Linked DNA regions of Homo sapiens: all the other regions are reported to be linked to region 4. Evidence: microRNA targets listed by miRTarBase, many of them from high-throughput screens and not tested one by one. Region 4 holds a microRNA gene; each other region holds the end of a gene's coding sequence.
The links. Region 4 holds the annotated microRNA hsa-miR-4302 (CCAGUGUGGCUCAGCGAG, at 3,396-3,413, opposite strand). A microRNA usually pairs through its seed, bases 2 to 8, with sites in the 3' UTR of a target mRNA and lowers its output. Matches are read on the target gene's strand: a 7mer-m8 pairs with bases 2 to 8, a 7mer-A1 pairs with bases 2 to 7 and ends in A, and an 8mer does both.

Region 1 (5,152 bases), not on the chromosome of region 4:
CTGCCCAGGACATCTGTCCAAGGGTGGGTGCATCTCAGAGTAATTGAGGTAAGCATGGAGACCTTGTGCCCTGCCACACTCCCCAGCTGGGGGACATTCTGACATTTGTGCCTCGGCCCCCAGCCATTGTACCCCCTTTGGTGTGTAGTGTGGGGTGACTCATTTGTGTCTTGTGGCACAGGGATAGAGCTGACCCTGCAGATCCAGAGCGACACTGGTGTCAGAGCCACCCTGAAAGAGTTCAAGGAGAGACTGGCAGGGGATAAGTACCAGGCGGCCGTGCAGGCTCTCCGGGAGGAGGTTGAGAGCTTCGCCTCTCTCTTCCCTCTGCCTGGCCTGCCTGACTTCTAAAGGAGCGGGCCCACTCTGGACCCACCTGGCGCCACAGAGGAAGCTGCCTGCCGGAGGACCCCCACCTGAGAGATGGATGAGCTGCTCCAAAGGGGAACTGTTGACACTCGGGCCCTTTGAGGGGGTTTCTTTTGGACTTTTTTCATGTTTTCTTCACAAATCAAAATTTGTTTAAGTCTCATTGTTAGTAATTCTGGGACAGGTTATTAAAGGATTTAAATTTGAACCTGGCTTTCTCACAGCTGGACATAATTCTAGGAAAATAAAATACTATGTCGCCACTTGGTCATAATCATTTAGATGGTGGTGTAGGGCAAAGCTGTTAGAAAGATTGTAGCGTTTTACTCTCCCTGGGCTTTCCTCCGCCTTGCTGCAACAGAGAGGAAATGCCCATGTCCACAGCTTGTACACACTGCCCCCTCACTATCTTGTTATCCAGTGGCATGCCAAAGGAGAACTGAATTAGCTTCTGAGGCTTCTGCTGTAAATCAGAAGTGTATGTTAGTCAAGAGTAAACAAGATGCACCCAGTATGGTGGGAGGGTTTTGCTGTCAGTAGCTCAAAGTATGGTGTAGAAATGGCCTCCTCCCTCCATCCTGGGAAGTCCCAGTCCCATCCTGGTGTGAGAATCAACCAGGCTTTCCTGCTCCACCTGAGATAACCAACTCCCTCCCGTAATCAGGAAGCCAAATGTCACCTTCCCAAAGAAATTTTATTTTCACGTAGCTGAAGTGCAAAACATAGATGACCATTTTTAATAAGCACAATCAAATTTTTAACCACAGAATGTCTACAAGAATTATAGCTTTAAAAAATACAACCAATTTTTATATTTCAAAAATATTTGAACTCAAATAAATTAATTTCTTAAAAAGTACACTTCTCATACTATGTGTTTGGCATTGACTCTGGTTAACTCTTGTGCAGCAACACCTACGAGATGCTATCACACACGCGCCAGCTGCACTCCTGCACCAGCCGCTGCAACGACTGCACCTCACGTGGTGGCGGGGACTCACATTCACAAGACGGGACGGGAACATGCAGTAATAAAATAGCTTTTTAAAAAATAACACATATAAATTCATCACATAGGATTATGCTTTTCACTGCAACCTTGAAGGTGGCATTTATCTCAATCTGTGACTCCAGCTATTTAGTGGCAGACAATCCCGGTGAGGCAGCCTGTGGTCCCACCTTGTAGGTGGCAGCCCCTGCAATCTGGGGTCTAGCCTGTCGGCGTTTGCTTTATTGTGGGTGGAGCAGCTGCTGCAGAATCTGTGAGTTGACTCACCAGTCCCTACAGTTCTGCTACCAAAGTGGTCTTCAATTTAGGGGCCTGACCCCTCCCCAGCTGGAGACAAGCTGCCATCTCCAGGGCTCGCTGTAAACAGCCTCCACTCTTGGGCTGAATAAGCACTCCCAAGAAGCTGGGCCCCTACCAACAGATTAATCGGCTGCAGAGTGCTCATCCCCTCCCCACACCCCCATCCACCCCTGCCTCCTCCTCCTTTCCACTGCTTTAACCAAACCTTAATGAGGTAAGGCCAGGCTAGGTCAGGGCTCAAAGGAAAATGGGCTCAGGAAAACTTAGTTTGCCCAGCCTTGTCAGCTGAGATTGGTTTTGCTTTCCAGCCAGAAGTAGAAACTTGATGCTTTTTCCTTTTTGCAGTGTTAAAAACCATATCTCCAGTTTTATTATGTTCCATCACAGTTTTGGGGCAAAGCCAGAAAGCTGACTTGTTTGCTTCAAAACACAAACCAAGGCACTGTCTTCTGTGCTTTTCAGGGAGGTGGGAAGGTAAAGGAGACTGCCCACTATAGGGGCTCAGTTCCCCCAAAGGCCTTGCACACCTTCTGATAAACCCCCTGGCTGAGGCAATCCTACTGGCTGTGCAGACAAAGATGTGACAGCAGCACTAGATGCTGACCCAACAAGCAGTGCTGGGCCTGGGCGGTGGGGCATGTTCAGCACTGCGGGCAGCAGTCAGCACATGCAAGACATTCAGTGAGCAGAGGGCTGCCCTCGGCCTCCAACTGCAGCCGCCCTGGCGCGTGAAATGAAATTGGTGGGCCTTCCTAGGATTGTAAAATGGGACTTGTCATTTGTGTGAGGTTGAAATCTACTATACTTTGAATATGGCAACTGTTTTCAACCACTGAAGCAAAGAAGGTAAAGGCCAGATGGGGAATGAAAGGTAAGGTACTGTGGTCTATTTCCAAATTTGGGAGCAATGTGTGTAACTTCAACTGTTGGAGTAAATGAGTTATGGAAAAGCCACAATTTCTAAAATCCCAAGGTTCTACCAAAGGAGTGAGGTTCCTGGGGAAACAGGCATGAGGCAGCAGCTCAGGCTGATGTGTCCTGTGCGATATAAAAAGCTGTGGCCTGATCTCTAAAGTGGGGCTTTTGAAAATCACCAGTCCACAACTACCTGCCTGGCTAGTTTAACCTAGACTGCTTCAGAAGCAAGGGAGGGGGATAATGGACTGGAGAAAAAGCTGACACAAAACTCAAGACAACCAGTTTCAGTACCTGGGCCCTCAAAGCAATAGTGAGGACTGAGAAAGTAGCAAGGGGCACTGATGTCATCTATTTTCTGGGAAGTGTAATTTTTAATGGTTTCATTAAAAACTTACTAACCTTCTACTGGAAGAATACCTCAAATGAAAAATTTTTTTTTTTTGAGACAGTTTTCGCTCTTGTTGCCCAGGGTGGAGTGCAGTGGCGCGATCTCGGCTCACTGTAACCTCTGCCTCCTGGGTTCAAGTGATTCTCCTGCCTCAGCCTCCCGAGTAAGTGGGATTACAGGCACGCACCACCAGACCTGGCTAACTTTCTTTGTATTTTTAGTAGAGATGGGGTTTCACCATGTTGGCCAGGCTGGTCTCCAACTCCTGACCTCAGGTGATCCGCCCACCTCGGCCTCCCAAAGTGTTGGGATTACAGGCGTGAGCCACTGCGCCCGGCCTCAACTGAAAATTCTTGATGAGATTAGTCCCACTGCATAGGTCTCAGCACTGAGGTTTAGAGATGTGAGACTCAGAGTAGGTTTCAGTTCCCCGGAGTGAAGGGGGCATAGGGAGGGGCAGGGCTTCCCAGTGTTAACTGCCTCTGCCCAAATCATGACTCAGTCCTGGTACCACGTCAAGATCCCTTTGAAAGGAAACATACTTTGCATCAAGTAATCCTTTGAAACTGCCACATTGAAAAGTTAGTTTTTAACCCAAATATAAATCTGGGAGCTAAACACTAGTCACGAAGCCATCTTTACTTAATGAAGAACCACCTTGAGGGAGACCAGCCCTGCTTGCCACTTACATGGCTGCCCCTGAGACGGTCTGTTCTGTTCATGCCCCAGCAGCCTTTTGCCTTAGGTTTCAGGACCTTCTGAACCACCCTTGAGGGTGTGTGCCAGCAAATACCTCAAGTGGACTTCTACTTAGGACCACTTGAGGGCACAACTTCAGCTTCTAGAAGGCCAAGTGTGGCTGCAATTCAGGATCTGCCCCAAACTCATCAGCCCTTCCCAAGTTTCCCAGGTGAGAACAGTATGAGCTGTGAATTTCTGTGTTGGTGTGACAGGAATGCCACAGTGGTGGTGCCAGTGATCACTTTCTGACCTTCCTTCCTTCTCAGATAAAATGTTGCACAGTTATGGCCTTGGAGGCCTAAGTAGACAGCAATTAACCAGCCAGTGAGAAAACGAATCAGCATCTAGAACAGGAGGGGAGGGAACCGTAACAGATAAGGGAGCCCACGATTAGAAGCAGGCTCCCTGCACAGCCTCTGCCTCCAGCGCAAGTAACAGACGTTTCACATTTAAAGGCTGCCAAGGTATTGCTGGCGACTCTCCTGTCTGTGAACATGCGCAACGGGCACAGGTACAGAGAACCAATGAGATGTAGGCAGCACCATCTGCCACAAAAGGTTCTCCATCGCAGCCCCAGGAGCAAAATCAAACACCTCTGATGGGAGCAAGGACCCTGAACAGAAGCCAACGGCTGGAGCCAACGGGCCATGCCCTTAAAACGAGGACTTGGACAAGGAGGGAACCACTGGAGTGACGTGATGCAAGCCCTCTTCGGTCACTCTTGGCTTCCACCAGGGGTCTCTGCCTCCTTGATGAGAAGAGAAGCTGGCTGGCTCCATGATGACCTCGATGGCGTACTACAGGCCGATGGGCAGGCCGGGCCTCAGCAGCAGGCGCCAACAGAAGCACACCCAGGGCTGATTCAGGTCCATTTCAGCATAATTTTTGTGGAACAAATTAAAGAAGCAGTAATACCAGAGCTGTCCCCACTTAGGGAATAAAATTTTCAAGGCTGCAAGAAACTCTCTGTCTACAAACCAGTGGCCATTGCCTAAGGAGGCTCGGGGAGGCCAGGGGATCACTATCAGTGGGATAGGTGCTGGCGGAACCAGGGGGTGTCTCCTTCCCAGTTTCAAACTTGTCCTCAGAAGGGGGACTCAACTGGGGACGGCCGTGAGCTGTGGTGACTGAGGTGCACACAGCCTCCCAGAGGCAGAACCTGAAGAGCGCCACGTGGTAGCTCATCCAGGAAATCCGTGCTATTTGAGTTCTCATCGGCTGGGCCAACCACCTGCACCAGCTGACTAAACAGAACCGTTGCTGTCCCAAGCCCACGAGACCCAGTGAGAGGTAGTGAAGTGGTTGCAAAGGTTTATGTGGGTGGGAGCTGGAGTGTGGCCTCTGCCATGTTCACACGGGTCTGCAGACCTTCCCCACGAGGAAGGTCAGTGCTCATGCGCTCTGGCCGGCAGGAGCCAGTGGGCCAC
Region 2 (5,152 bases), not on the chromosome of region 4:
ATGGCATAGGTGAGTATCTGAGGTAGGAAATGAACCACCATCCTTTCCACCCTATTTTCATATTATTTCATCTCTGATAGGGCGTTTGTAATTCTTCAGCCTTTAGGTTATTGTGTTCTTCAACATTCAATAAACTGGCCTAGAGGATTGCCATAAAAAGTACAGATTATCAAAGAAATACCATCAGAAAGAGAACACTGAAGCATATCTTCTAGTGTTAGTGTGAGGGGATCTAGGTTGTTTAGTGTTCAGATACGGGGAAGATAAGAAAATAGGCTGGGCACCATGGTTCATGCCTGCAATCTCAGCACTTTGGGAGGCTGAGGTGGATGGATCACTTGAGCCCAGGAGTTTGAGATCAACCTGGACAACATACTGAGACCTCATCTCTACAAAAAAAAATTTTTTAAGCCGGGCATAGTGGCACATGCCTGTGGTCTCAGCTACTTGGAAGGCTGAGGGGAAGCCTGGGAGGTCAAGGCTGCAGTGAGCCATGATTGTGCCACCGCAATCCAGCCTGAGTAACAATGAGACTCCTAAAAACAAAAAAAGAAAAGAAAAGAAAGCAATGACCTTTTTTTTTTTTTTTAATCATTAAGCACTGAACAAAGCCACTATGCTAAAACTTTCCTGTTTTACTAATAGGAACAACATGCCAGAATTTCACAAATTAAAAGCAAAGTTGATAAAGAAGAAAGGAACACGGGCATATGCCTGCCAGTGTAGCTGGAGAACTATTGAAGAAGTGACTGACCTTCAGACAGATCATCAGCTTCGCTGGGTTTGTGGTAAACATTAAGAATGCAGACTGCACATTCGGACAGATGCATCCATGAGAGTGGTCTCCATGAATCATCATCATGTTTAGACAATAGTCCCTAGCAATACCATTCCCTGTGGGAAAAGGCAGTGAATTTTATTGATACAACTACATACATTTTTGAAGACCAAATGGACTAAGGAAGATCATGTATTATAACACTTTGGAATTATTCCTGATACATGGATGTTTCACTTAGTAACAGGCATCTACATTCTTTACTAATCTGTCTTCTGTTTAATAGAGGTTTGATTATGGAGTTCCATACAAATATCTAGTTTTTCATTAGCAACTGCAATATTGATTGCTAATACGTTTAGCAAATCATTCCCCAACTTGTAGCAGTTAAAGTGGATAAAGCCGGCCAGGGCAAAGAGATCATTTAGGGGTGTCTACAACACTTCTTCCAGTCAGATCTTTTGTTGCCAAAGATCATAATTTGGACATGGCAGAAACCAGGTGATCAGTGGCTGACTGAAGGGTGTTCAGAAGTAGTTACAGGTATTTTGCAAAAACACTGCCTCATAGCTGATCTTACCTCATCAACTCAAAGCAATGTTATGCACAATATTAAATACATGTTACCAGTTTTAGCTTATTTTTCCCTCTTTTGTTCATTTAACTATCAAAAGTTATTTTCTATTTTGATTACCCAATAATATATAAAAAGAGTTTGATGCACCCAAAATCACAAAAATCCTAATACATACAGGTTATTGTTGGATTTTCCAAGTACTTTCTATCCTTTAATGCCTAAAACTCCATCAAGGGAAGTAAACAGCAAGTAATATAATTTTTCAGGCAGCCTGTGGACTTCTCTGGTAGGATCAGGTTGACATATCGTTTATTAGGTGAGTAAGTGAAAAGACAAGTAAAGCATAACTGAACCAACAGGTAACCTGTTGGGCTCCTTCCTGACATCACTGAGATCTGAGGAGCCCTACAATAGCAGCACATTCAGGAAATCAGGTCCCTCAAAATTTCTAGCTCCCAACCCCATTGAGAGATTTTGGGAGCTTTCCAATCTGCCACAAACTCCCTGCTACATATGTACTATATAGTTCAAATGTGTGATACAGAGCACCCTGAAAGGGAATAATTGAAACAAAGTTATAATCTTCTTAGTCTTATGCTAAATTTATTCCAGCCACCCTACTGAAGGGAGGAAGATCTGATCATTAGAATCCTTTTCCTAGCCATGACACATTTACATACTTGTAAAATTTATTGTAGTAAGTCTAGCATTGCAACAGAATAGATCTTATAATGGCCAATCCTCACACTTTTGTATTAAGGATATTATGACAGACTAAGCATGGTAGCTCACGCCTGTAATCCCAGCACTTTGGGAGGCTGAGGCAGGCAGATCAGCTGAGGTCAGGAGTTCAAGACCAGCCTGGCCAACATGATAAAACACCATCTCTACTAAAAATACAAAAATTAGCTGGGCGCGGTGGTGCATGCCTGTAATCCCAACTACTCGGGAGGCCGAGGCAGGAAAATTTATTGAACCTGGGAGGCAGAGGTTGTAGTGAGCCAAGGTCGCGCCACTGCGCTCCAGCCTGGACAACACAGTGAGACTCTGTCTCAAAAAAAAAAAAAAGACATTATGACAGATTTTATCTTTTAATAAAAATGTATTATATCCCTAAAGTTATATCTATATGTAATTGAGTCAGAAACCTAGGGGGATGTCGATTGAAGTCGACTGCTGGAAAAAAATAGCAGAGCAACAAGATCCACACATTTAGAACCTCATAGAATTTGACACATTATTCATAATGGTGCAATTCTTTCTTTTTTATTCCAGTAAGCAAATTTACTAAATCACTAATTTGAAAAAAAAAATTTTTTTTTTGAGATGGAGTGTCACTCTGTTGCCGGGCTGGAGTGCAGTGGCACGATCTCTGCTCACTGCAACCTCCGCCTCGCAGCTTCAAGTGATTGTCCTGCCTCAGCCTCCCCAGTAGCTGGGATTACAGGCACACACCACCACGCCCAGCTAATTTTTGTATTTTTAATAGAGACAGGGTTTCACCATGTTGGCCAGAATGATGTCGATCTCCTGAACTCGTGATCCGCCCGCCTCAGCCTCCCAAAGTAGCCTACATTGCCTCTACTTTGAAGGGACAAAGTTGTCCTGGTTTTTTTTTCCCTTTTATTATTTCATTATAACTATCCTAAAACTTACATACATTGCCTATGTTTGGCATTCCATAACATAATAATTATAATAATCCCCCAATGTCAGAAATGTATGTGTGAGTTCCCATGTTTATTGGCAATTTATAAGCTTTTTAATATTGTACTATTTTAAACTAAAATGTAGAAAGAATATTATGTTTATATACAGTCAGATAAATTATTAACTGTTGTAATTTAAGCTGAAAATGAAACTATTTTAGTATCAGTATAGAAGAAAAGTATAGTTTCTAATCATCTATAATTTTAAAATGCAAAGCCTATAAAACTTTCAAGATGTTTTGCCTGTTTGTTTTTAAGATTTATAATAATTTTCTATCTTTAGCAAGTAGCTATTTTTAAGCCAGGTAACTTCTTTATTTGAACTGTATTATACTCTCAGACCCTCATCCTGCCTAGAAATGAATAAGTAATAAATAATTACTCTGTATTATTTACTTCTTTTATTTTATAGTAAAATATTCATTTGGATGGACATTAATTTGAAATCATTTTGATGTTTTTTTTTTTTGAGACAGAGTCTCTCTCTGTTGCCCAGACTAGAGTGCAGTGGTGCAATCATAGCTCACTGCTTCCTTGAACTCCTGAGCTAAAGCGATCCTCCCACCTCAGCCTCCCAAAGTGCTGGGATTACAGGTGTGAAGCACCATGCCCAGTCAAAAAAAATTTTTTTAATGTCAACAGAAAAGTTTCCAAGCATCCAGTTAAACAGATAATTTGTCTACACTGGGGAGGAGAAGTATGCCATAACTCTGATGTGTGTGTGTGTGTGTGTGTGTGTGTGTGTGTGTGTGTGTACATGCATGTGTAAAGAGAGTATGTGTGTGCATGCATGTGTAAAGTACCATGGGTATTCAAAGGAACAGGTCCAAGTTTAGGAAGAACAGGCCATGCTGACTTGGCGGTGTATACCTAGAACCTGTTCGTTGATGTCAGTAAACTTAGTACCTTTTTTTCTTAGGCCAGAGAATATGTCATCAGACTATGAATCTGAATTGCTTTCTCTCTTTTTCTTACTGATATTTAAGAATATGAAAGAAAAAGGTCTTTGTATCCAAAAGCATTGTGATGAAGCTTAGCCATGAATTTCAAATGCTGATATTTCTAATGTTTTAACAAAATCTCTATCAGCCAACCTAATGCTCCCAGTAATCAGCAATATCTCTTGTATAAAATAGTTCCTGAAAGAAAAAATTTAAAATACGCAATCTCTTTAGAGATTTCATATCTTATTGTATTTCATTGGGTTTGTGACATCATTTTGTGCCCTATTTTAAGAATGCACTAGAAAAACCAAAAAAGAAAAAAGATTGCATTAGATATGTATATATACAAGTACATGATAATTAAATTTGACTTTCCCCAAATGCCTTGAGATAAGGGATGACCAAATGAAGTTTAACAAAGTCAGAGTTCAGAGTCGTGTCCCTTAGAAAGTCACATGACATTTTGGGCTTCGTTCGCCTTAACTGTATGAATTATAATACCACTTTTGTAAGTTTGTTGTAAGGATTAAATCATATAACACATGAAAAGTGACTAGCATAGTGTTTGGTTCAGAATAGGTGCTTAATAAATGTTCTCATTCTTTTGTTATTATTATACTTTAAGTACTGGGATACATGTGCAGAACGTGCAGGTTACGTGCAGGTTTGTTAAATAATTATACACGTGCCAGGGTGGTTTGCTGCACCCATCAACCTGTCATCTATGTTAGGTATTTCTCCTAATGCTATCCCTCCCCTAGCCCCCTAGCCCCCAACCAGCCTCTGGTGTGTAATGTTCCCCTCCCTGTGTCCATGTGTTCTCATTGTTCAACTCCCACTTATGAGTGAGAACATGCAGTGTTTGGTTTTCTGTTCTTGTGTTAGTTTGCTGAGATGGTTTCCAGCTTCATCCATGTCCCTGCAAAGGACATGAACTCATCCTTTTTTATGGCTGCATAGTATTCCATGGTGTATATGTGCCACATTTTCTTTATCCAGTCTATCATTAATGGGCATTTGGGTTGGTTCCCAGTCTTTGTTATTGTGAATAGTACTGCAGTAAACATACGTGTGCATGTGTCTTTATAGTAGAATGATTTATAATCCTTTGGGTATATACCCAGTAATGGGATTGAACTTCTGG
Region 3 (5,152 bases), not on the chromosome of region 4:
TTTCCCCTGCCTTTGACCTGGAATCAGCCATTTTTCCAAGGAGCCCTTTTAATGAGAGATTGGTTTTTGGAAACCAAGATCTGGACTATAGGCATACTTAATTTTACTGAGTGCTGTAACTTGTAGGCCTGTTGAGTGGACATACCATATCTACTTTTTCACTTAACATTGCCTGCAAGTTGGTTTATATTAGTTCATGGAGATGTTTATTCTTGTTTATGGCTACATAGTACTCAATTGTGTAATGTACCGTGGTTATTCAACCAGTCTCCTGTAGATAGGCATTTAGGATGTTTGCAGTCTTGTATTATTACATCTAATGCTGCAATGAATAACCTTGTGCATATCTTGTTTTTTATTTGTGGAGATGTGGATTCAGGGTAAATTCCGAGCAGTGGGCTTACCTACTCAAAAGGTAAATGCGCATCTGTAGTTGTTGTTAGATAGTCTCAAAATCCCTTCCATAGAGGTCACACCAGTCTGCATGCCTGTCAGCACTTGCACAGATTATTAATTCATTGTTACATTTTGCTTAAAATTGAGTTAGGAAGTTTGGTGAATAAATGTTTTGGGGACTTTTTTTTTTTAAAAAAAAGATATTTCCTGGTCATATGTGCCATATTTTCTCTATGGTCCATACCACAGAATTTGCTTGTTTCTAAATTATGCCTGTGTTTATTTACATTCATTTATGCTAAATTGTTTTCCAAATAGTTTTATAAATTTACCTCCCATACCAGCAATGTGTAAGAGTTTTCCTCTTAGCCAACACTGTGATCAACGTTTTTCATTTTCCTCAATTTGGTAAGTTTGAAATTGTAACTTGTTTTATTTTCTATTTTGTATTTCCTTGATGAATAATGAGGATAAATATATTTCCAAATGAACGTTAGACATTCTTGTTTCATTTTCTGTGAATAGTCTGTTCATGTCTTTTGCCCATTTTCCTATTGGCTTATGTGTAGTTTTATTATTAGGAGTCCATTAGATATTCTATATATTAATCTTTTGCCAATCATATGTGCTACAAATACCTTCTCTGGGTTTGCAACTGTTTTTTACCCTGTTTATGGTATCTTTTTCCAAGGTTTAAACTTTTTATTATAGAAAAACTTGAAATACACACAAAAACAGAAAGGATAGTATAATATTAGCTTTGCATTCATTACCCTGCTTCAAAAGTCATGAACTTATGGCCAATCTTCTTTTTTCTACACCTACGACTTCTCCATCTTATGTTGAAACAAATCCCATTAGTAATATAACTTCATCAACAAAAGTCAATATATTTCTATCAAATGTAGGGATTTTCCTTTTTAAACATAATCACAGTGGCATTACCATAACTGAAAATTTAATAGTATTCGATATATTAAGTGTTCAATGCTCGCATTTTCCTGAGATATATCCATTAACAATATAACCTTGGGCTAGTTATTTCATGAAAAAGGCAAGGAATGAAATTTCTGCTTTTCTGGCTCCACTATGAAAATCTAAGAGCTGCTTTTAGCTGTAGCCAGCCTGTTCATGTGCAATTACTATGCCATTTTATATCAGACTTCAGATTTTAACTTCATAATATTTTAGTAACCCATAATGTCTCAAAACTACAAGAAAGCAGCCGTTATGTGAAAATGAGTCTCTGCTGGGCATGATGGCTTACACCTGTAATCCCAGTGTTTTGGGAGGCTGAGGCAGGAGAATTGCTTGAGGCCGGAAGTTTGAGACTAGCCTGGGCAACATAGTGAGACCCCATCTCTACAAAAATAAAAACTTAGCCAGTCATGGTGGAGCACGCCTATAGTCTCAGCTACTTGGGAGGCTGAGGTGGGAGAATCGTTTGAGCCCAGGAGTCCAGGGCTGCAGTGAGCTATGATTGTGCCACTGCACTCCAGCCTAGGCAACAGAGCGAGACCCTGTTTCTAAAATAAATACATGTTAAAATCTGTACAGTCCTAGAACTAAGGACTAGAATGTAGTGTTCTATTAAGAAGCTTGGCTGATATGCTGCACTTGCCTATAACACAAAAATACAAAACAGGCTGAGCATTCCAGCGCTTTGGTAGGCTAAGGCAGGAGGATCGCTTGAGCCCAGGAGGTTGAGCCTGCAGTGAGCCATGATTATGCCACTGCACTCCAGCCTGGACAACACAGCGAAACTCTCTTAAAACACAACACAACAAAACAAAACAGACATAAAACATTGTGTTGGTAATTGCATTTCCAAATCAGTGTTATTTTGAGCAGCCCTTTGTTTCAATTATTGCTGTTCTTTAAAAATCATCAACTTGCATTTATCTGAATCATTAACTCTTTGATCTATTGGTGTTCTTACATTTAAAGATACACAGCAACTTAAATATGAATTATCCAAACCCCTTGTAGTAAAGCATAATCTCCACCCACTTCCAATTGCTTATACGGTGCCAATTCCTTATCACCAATTTGTTTTTCCAGTGATAAGTGGAAAAGGATGGAACCTTTTGCCTAACCCAAGTCGAGTTGGGCAGACAGTTCGAGAATCTCTGCTGTAAGTTACCATGGCTGGAAGAACCCAGCCCTGAAAATCCAGCACCATTATGTAACACTCATCCATTCCTTTCTGCTTTCTAGTAAATGTTGACTTCCTGGCTAGATTGTAGCTTCATGGGCAGTACCATGAATGAATCACTCTATGTCCCTAGGGCTTGGAACTGTAGATTCCATGAATGCATCAAATAAATGGGGTACATGACATGGTCACAAAACAGTAACACCTTGATTGTGACCAAAATTTTAACAAAAGAAATATCGTTTTTAAATGTGCAAAACTCTGTTAAAAGAAGTCGTTAGGGTCTGTCATGCCTTCCATGCTTGGCCAGCTCCAGGTTCTTAGCTCCTAATCAAGCAAGGTTTAAAAAAGCTCTGGATATAGAAAGCAGTTCTCTACCTCCATACACCTCCCAACCACAAATCCTTGCATTTTAACCATGCCTTCAAGCTTTAACATGGTGGCGCCTCATTCTCCAGTGTGGCAGGCAGCTTCCTGTTACTCGTATTCTTGTGTCCCTCTCCTTGAGTGTGGGCTGTGTCTCACTTCTAACAAACAAATAGACTATGGTAAAGTTATGGAATGTCCGTTTTGAGATTAGGTGATGAAAAGGCTCTGGCATCCATCTTGCTCTCTCGCTTGCTCTGATGGAAGCCACCTCCCATGTTGTGAGCTGACCCTTTAAGGCAAAGGCCATGTGGCAAGGAACTGAAGGAGGTGTCTGGCCAACAGCCAGTAAGGCACTGAGGCCCTCAATCCACAGCCCACAAGATTCAACCCACTGAACCCTCCCAGAAACCACTTCGAGCGATCTTGAAAGGCCTGTCCCACCTTGAGATGACTACAAGTATCATAGCCTCATGAGACACTGAGCCAGAGAACCCAGGTAAGCCATGCCCAGATTCCTCGTTTCAAGCTATTAAGTTTTAAGGCAATTTTTTACATAAATAACTTAACACATTTGAGACAAATGAGGCATTACTATGCCACAGCCTGAAAACTGTCTAGCAGTTACCTTAGGCAAGTTAATCTATTTTCAAACAGGAAGAGCCTTCCCCACCTCATAGACTAACTGTAATGTCTGTGTGAAGGCATCTGCTCACATATAAAATAAGTAAGCTTCCTTTGAACTCAACACAGAAAATTTTAACGGACTCAAATTGGTTTACCAATATCTTTCAAGAGGAATTTCAATTGAATTGTTCATAATTTATACTTTTTTATATAGAAAACATTTTTAACTAGTGAAAACAAAGGACACATTCAAAATCAGGTAGAAATCATGTTTCCTTTTAATTGAATACTTAATTCACAACGTTTCCTCTCTTGCTGCTACTCTGGTAATAATTAGGTCCCCACCTCTCAAGAACATTGCACCTGACTAGACTGAGAGCCAGTGTGAACATGGGCCCCAAACCAGGGCTTTCGGAATAACAAGGAACAGCCAAGCCAGCCTCTCCCTTCACTTAGAAAGGGATTATGAATGGAAGGGTCCAAATCTTCATCATCCAAACACAGAAAACCAGGAGCTCAACACCTACATGGAAACCAAAATGTATCAGGAATAAAGTACAGTACCCCTTCACATACTCAAGGTCAAGATGGGTTTGCAGAAATCATATCTGACCATCTGGCCTCTGCTAGTAGATATGGCCCCATCCCAGCATTTTTAAGAGATGTTTTTGTTGTATTATTTCCCCAAGGGGTATAAAATCTACCAAAAGGAATATAATGAATCAGAATAAATCAGCTCACTCACAAGAAACGTTCTTGGGTAATGGTTTTTAGTTGCTGAGCTTATTCAGCACATTATTTAAAAGTGGCAAAATTCAGGGCAATCTGAGAATTCAAAAGTGGCGGCCACAGGTTTGGGTAGGACACACATACATACAACCCCCATTTTTTTCAGTGTATATGTCAAGATGTCAAGACCTCAAGACCTCTGATCATCAAAATAAGTTATTTTGTATATTATAATGCACAGGACAACAGAAGGAAACTTTCTTGGAAGGTGATGACAAGGCCTTTTGCAAAAGGTCCACTCCAAAAGGACTGGTGCCCAGTGCCTTGTGGCCTTCATTAACTTGATCCCTCCTCTTCTTTGGTTGCAGTGGCCTCAATGGGAGCTGTTTCTTCTGCTTGTTCTGCTGGCTTCTTCTCTCTTTCCTCTTCCTCATCCTCATCCTCTTGGGGATAGAGGTCTGGGTATTTCTGCATGCATTCCTGCATGGCCCGGAACTGGTCTACACAGTCTGACCCCTTGATCTCCTCCGTGCTATAGTGGAAGCAGGAAAAGGCTGACTTAAACTGTTCTCCACAGGGACCGCTGGCCATTCCCCCAAGGCATGGGCAGTTCCAGTTAATGTTTCCATTTGGCAGTATCAATCCTAGAACAGGAAGATAGAGAGATGTTCTCTAAAGTTTCAGAAAATACAAAACTAGTCCAGTCCTCACAGGCTACTGAGGGGGTGCAGAACAGGAACTATTGTTGCCTATGGACCCACACCTCGATTTGGATTAGGTTTAAAGCCTAGCACATATCCAGCATTCCTTGGCCCACCTGGGAGAGAAGCCACCAATGACATATTTCTCCACGTGTGACACTAATTTATTCTAAGCCAC
Region 4 (5,152 bases):
AGGTTTCGCCACGTTAGCCAGGCTGGTTTCAAACTCCTGACCTCAGGTGATCCGCCTGCCTCGGCCTCCCAAAGTGCTGGTATTACAGGCGTGGTATTTGACTGTGCCCGGCCAAATAACCCAATTTCAAAACAAAATTAGCCGGGTATGGTGGTGCATGCCTGTAATTCCAGCTACTCGGGAGGCTGAGGCGGGAGAATCGCTTGAACCGGGGAGGCAGGAGGTTGCAGTGAGCCAAGATTGTGCCATTGCACTCCAGCCTGGGCAACTAGAGCTAAACTCCGTCTCAAACAAACAAACAAACAAACAAACAAATAAATAAGCCAGGTGTGGTGGCAGGCGCCTGTAATCCCAGCTACTCTGGAGGCTGAGGCAGCAGAATCACTTGAACCTTGGTGGGTGGGAGGGGAGAGGCTGCAGTGAGCCGAGATCGCGCCATTGCGCTGCAGCCTGGGCGACAGAGTGAGACTCTGTCTCAAAAAAAAAAAAAAAAAAAAAGGCAGAAACAACCCAAATGTCCATCGATTGATGAATGGTAAATAAAATGCAGTATATCCAAACAGTGAAATATTATACGAAAACACAAAGGAACTTGAAGAGCTGATACATGCTACACATGGACAAGTCTTGAAAAATATGATGCTGAGTGAAAGAAGCCAGTCAGAAAAGATCGCATATCCAGCCATAAAAAATGATGAGTTCATGTCCTTTGTAGGGACATGGATGAAGCTGGAAACCATCATTCTCAGCAAGCTATCGCAAGGACAAAAAACCAAACACCGCATGTTCTCACTCATAGGTGGGAATTGAACAACGAGAACACATGGACACAGGAAGGGGAACATCACACACCCGGGCCTGTTGCGGGGTGGGGGGAGGGGGGAGGGATAGCATCAGGAGATATACCTAATGTTAAATGACGAGTTAATGCGTGCAGCACACCAACATGGCACATGTATACATATGTAACTAACCTGCAGGTTGTGCACATGTACCCTAAAACTTAAAGTATAATAATAATAAAATTAAAAAAAAAAAAGAAAAGATCGCATATCGAATAATTCCCCTAACACGAAATCTCCAGAAAAGACAAATCTATAGAGATAAAAAGTAGATTAGGACAGGCATGGTGACCCACGCCTGTAATTCCAGCACTTTGGGAGGCCGAGGCGGATGGGTCTCCTGAGCTTGGGAGTTTGAGACCAACCTGGGCAACATGACGAAACCCCATCTCTACAAAAAACGCGAATAATTAGCCAGGTGTGATGGCACTGACCTGTGGTCCCAGCTACTCAGGTGTGGTGGCCCTGACCTGTGGTCCCAGCTACTCAGGTGTGCTGGCACTGATCTGTGGTCCCAGCTACTCAGGAGGCTGAGGTGGGAGAATTGCTTGAGCCTGGGTGGCAGAGGTTGCAATGAGCCAAGATCACACACTTCAACATGGGTAACAGAGTGAGACCCTGTCTCAAAAAAAGAAAACAAAAGTAGATTAATGATTGCCTGAGGTGGGGTGGGGGGAATGTTGAGGGGAGATAAGAGGAATGGGGAGTGATTTTTAGTGGGTAAGGGGTTTCTTCTTGGAGTGATGAAAATGTTCTAAAATTGGTTTTGGTAATGATTACACAACCCTGTAAATATAGTAAAAATAACTTAATTGTCTACTGTAACTGGGTGAACTGGTTGTATGTGAGTAATATCTTACCACAACTGTTAAAAAAAAAGTGTCAATACAAAATAAGGACAAAAAATTTTAACAACAGAGGTAAATTATTATGTGACAATACTAAGCAAAAAAGATGAAAGCAAAATTATTTATCTGTATATGTTCAGCTATGTGTAAAGTATATGCATAGAAGTAATTCTGAGAGCAAATATGCCAAACTACTTATAATGGTTCTTTCTCTTTACACTTTTGTATTCCATCTAAAATTACCATAGTGAGTAGGAACATTTTAACCAAAAATAAAAATTTTAAAACAAAAATAACAAAGCACTTTTCCTTTTATTACTTTGGTTAATAGCAAATTAGTCTGTTTCATCTGTCTATATTCATTTGCGAGTTTTCTTCTAGTCTTCTCTGTCTTTATCTTCTACCTCTTTTACTTGATAAGAGGAGTCCCAAGACTAGTACTCAATTTTGCATTTCTTTCTCATTTTTCACACAGCATCTGCTAAGGTAAAACTGTTACTAACTTATTGGATGGTTGACTTCAGCATATTGATTTTGAAGATTTTGGACTCTATATATGCATTTAAGGATAGTATTTCTATCTCTATAAAGTGGAATCTGGAACCAGATCCAACAATAGACCACTTAGAAAATATACTTTGTTCTATTATATTGAATTCCAAGTGTTCTCATTTATACAATTTGTACCAAATGTTAGATTGGAAGACAAAAAGAAGTTTGGGAGCACAGATGATTCTTCAACCAATTTCTCTATTTTAAAGACATAGTTGAGGCAATTAGATATCAAATAATCTGAGAGACAAAAAATTAGATTTAAAATAATCATAATGGTAACAATAGCTAATATTATTGAGTATCTACTGTATGTCAGGCATGGTTCCAAGCACTTTATGTTCAGTCCTCATTGAATTATCCCAATAATCCTAAGAGATAAGTGCTATTGTTATCCTCCTTTTGTTGTTGCTGTTGTTATAGGGTCTGGCTCTGTCACCCAGGCTGGAGTGCAGTGGTGCAATCTCAGCTCATTGCAACCTCCGCCTCCTGGGCTCAAGTGATCCTCCCACCTCAGCCTTTTGAGTAACTGGGACTACAGGCGTGTGCCAACATACTAGTCTAATTTTTCTATTTTTTGTAGAGACAGGGTTTTGTGATGTTGCCCACGCTGGTCTCAAACTCCTGGACTTAAGCGATCCACCACGTCAGTCTTCCAGACTGCTAGGATTACAGACATGAGCCACCATGACCAGCCTGTTATCCTCTTTTTATAGATTATGAAATAGAGGCTTACAAATGTTATGCCCACTTAATTTAAATTTACAAAGCTAATAAATATCAGACAAAGATTCAGATCCAGGTTTGTCTGACTCCAGAGACAGAACTTTAAACCATAAAGCTTAGAGACCTGGATTTGTGGAAAAAATAAAATAAACCATAAAGCTATATATCTTCATTTTCCCATAACACGTTTTTGAAATCATACAGTTCAATCAATTCTCTTCCTCCTGGAATAAAGCTGATTAAAGAGTTAGAGAAGTTGATGAGTTATAATGAGTTACAAAACAAGGAGTATTTTCTCTCCCTTTTTTTGCAAATGAAAAATGAGGTATTTGGAAGAGATGCTTTTTTTAAGCTTCATGACTTTGGTGATTTGGGAATAGAAATAGTAATTCTACCTCATTCCAATACCTTAAGTAAACTCAGCCACCTCGCTGAGCCACACTGGTCCCTCCTGAAGTGACCCCAGGATCTGCATCACAGTTTCAGAATTCCTCATCAGTATCCACCATGCTTAGAGCTCTGCTCTCCTGATGCCAACATCCCCACTTTTTTTGGTTCTTAGCAAACTCTTTCTCTTTGTGGAGCATTTTCCTTGGTGACTAAATTTAGACTCCGGCACACAACAGAATCTGTCCTCTGGCCTTATATGCTAATACTTTTGATAAATGATGCCTCAGTAGACTCCCAACTCTGGTCCCTATGGATCCCACCTTCACCAAACTGCTACCCCTTCATCCCCAGCCTCACACACACACACAGGAGGGAGGAGGGTCGGACAAGAGGGAAAATACCATAACCATGGAAGCAGGTAACGTGCTTCTCTCTGGCAATACCTGGCCATGTCACATTTCTAGAAACTTGGGCACTCATCGGCATAAATCTTACAAAGAGGGGCCTAAAAGCATTGTCAGCCTCTGGGGTGGGAGTCCAGGGATATCACAAAACACAAAGTTGTCTTCAAAAATCCAGTCATACTGTGCATATTTATCTGAGAAAAAAATCTCAAGGAAGAAATTCTTAAACTTCTCTGCCTCACCCATTTCAAGGTCTGATCATGTATTTTTCAGGAGGAATAGTCAAAAGTAAGGCAATTTCAAATGAAGACACCAGGAAAAAAATGTGAAGTGATTGTAACCAGCGAAAATAAAATTTAGGATTTGTTGGCAGTGTTTGTTGAAGAAGAAGGAAGAAAAGGAGTAGGAAGAGAGAGAAGGAAGGAACGAGGGAAGGAGACGAGGAAGGAAAGAATTAATAAGTCTGGTGGGGAAGAAATGAATCCTTTGTCAAAAATATTTCAGATGCTGAAATTCTGTTATTGTTTCTAGCTAACTAGAACGTTCTCCCTTTCCCTTTCGGCTGGATTATTTTCTTCTCATTCTTCAAATCTCACTTCCTCCTTCAGACTTCATCAATTCGTGCTTCCCTTCACTGATATCCATTCAGTGATATTTATAGTCCATTTATATGTATGGCCTTTGATTTTTGTTTAAATTTCAGCAATTGCTCACTGCCCATCCTGACTGGCCTCCTCCAGCACAGCTCCTAACACCCCTCACCCTGCTCACAAACACTCGTCGAGTCCAAACCAGCCTGGCAGGTAAGGCCTTCCATAATTTGGCTTCAACTCATGCTTCCAAACAACCTTATTTTCAGCTCTTCACTTCTTATGAATAACCATACAGCAGTGACCTTAACATTTTGATGGCAAACAGTAATGCTCACCACGTTCAGGTCACAAGCACATGTCTTGCTATTAGGAGAGTTGTAAAGGAAACAGCAGAAGCAGTCCCTCCCCAGAAAAATGCACAGTCTAATGGAGGTGAAATTAACTTCAGCAATAAACTTAAGATTCATATTGAAGAGGCACTTGCACTGACTCAGAAACTTTCTGCAGAGAATCTGAAGAAGAGCAGGAGCAGCAAGACAGAAAGCACTCAAGAGGTGACTTCGGAGGCTCAGTCACCAAACAATAGGCAATGTTGTTCTCTAAGCCTTGTACCAAAACTGATAGGGTAAAGGGTCTTCCAAATACAACTTTATTTATTAACAATCCTCCTTTATTCTGGTCCACCTGAGGCTACACAAATGTACCCTCTTCTTAAAGAAACTGATTTGGATAGACAGGGAATAGGAGATTTCAATCCTGCTGAACTAGGTTGCTTCTCTTATGAAATCAGCCTGCAA

Region 1: miRTarBase lists SHMT1 as a target of hsa-miR-4302. Seed matches in the 3' UTR shown: 7mer-m8 at 760-766.
Region 2: miRTarBase lists CFAP418 as a target of hsa-miR-4302. The part of its 3' UTR that is shown has no 7-base or 8-base seed match.
Region 3: miRTarBase lists CHCHD4 as a target of hsa-miR-4302. Seed matches in the 3' UTR shown: 7mer-A1 at 4,436-4,442 and 7mer-m8 at 3,925-3,931.

What each region holds. Positions count from the first base shown.
Region 1 is chr17:18,323,949-18,329,100 of GRCh38, reverse strand. It overlaps SHMT1 (serine hydroxymethyltransferase 1), which reads left to right. Exons shown (of 12, transcript NM_004169.5): 12 at 182-1,228. The coding sequence ends at 351. It overlaps SMCR8 (SMCR8-C9orf72 complex subunit), which reads right to left. Exons shown (of 2, transcript NM_144775.3): 2 at 1,045-5,152. Among named protein-coding and RNA genes, the nearest start is that of SMCR8, 11 kb to the right of the region's middle. RefSeq lists a silencer at 3,268-3,377.
Region 2 is chr8:95,243,264-95,248,415 of GRCh38, reverse strand. It overlaps CFAP418 (cilia and flagella associated protein 418), which reads left to right. Exons shown (of 6, transcript NM_177965.4): 6 at 646-3,503. The coding sequence ends at 799. Among named protein-coding and RNA genes, the nearest start is that of CFAP418-AS1, 23 kb to the left of the region's middle.
Region 3 is chr3:14,108,278-14,113,429 of GRCh38, forward strand. CHCHD4 (coiled-coil-helix-coiled-coil-helix domain containing 4) reads right to left here. Exons shown (of 3, transcript NM_001098502.2): 3 at 3,800-4,917. The coding sequence ends at 4,610. Among named protein-coding and RNA genes, the nearest start is that of CHCHD4, 14 kb to the right of the region's middle.
Region 4 is chr12:25,870,657-25,875,808 of GRCh38, forward strand. It overlaps MIR4302 (microRNA 4302), which reads right to left and starts at 3,423; the gene lies at 3,364-3,423.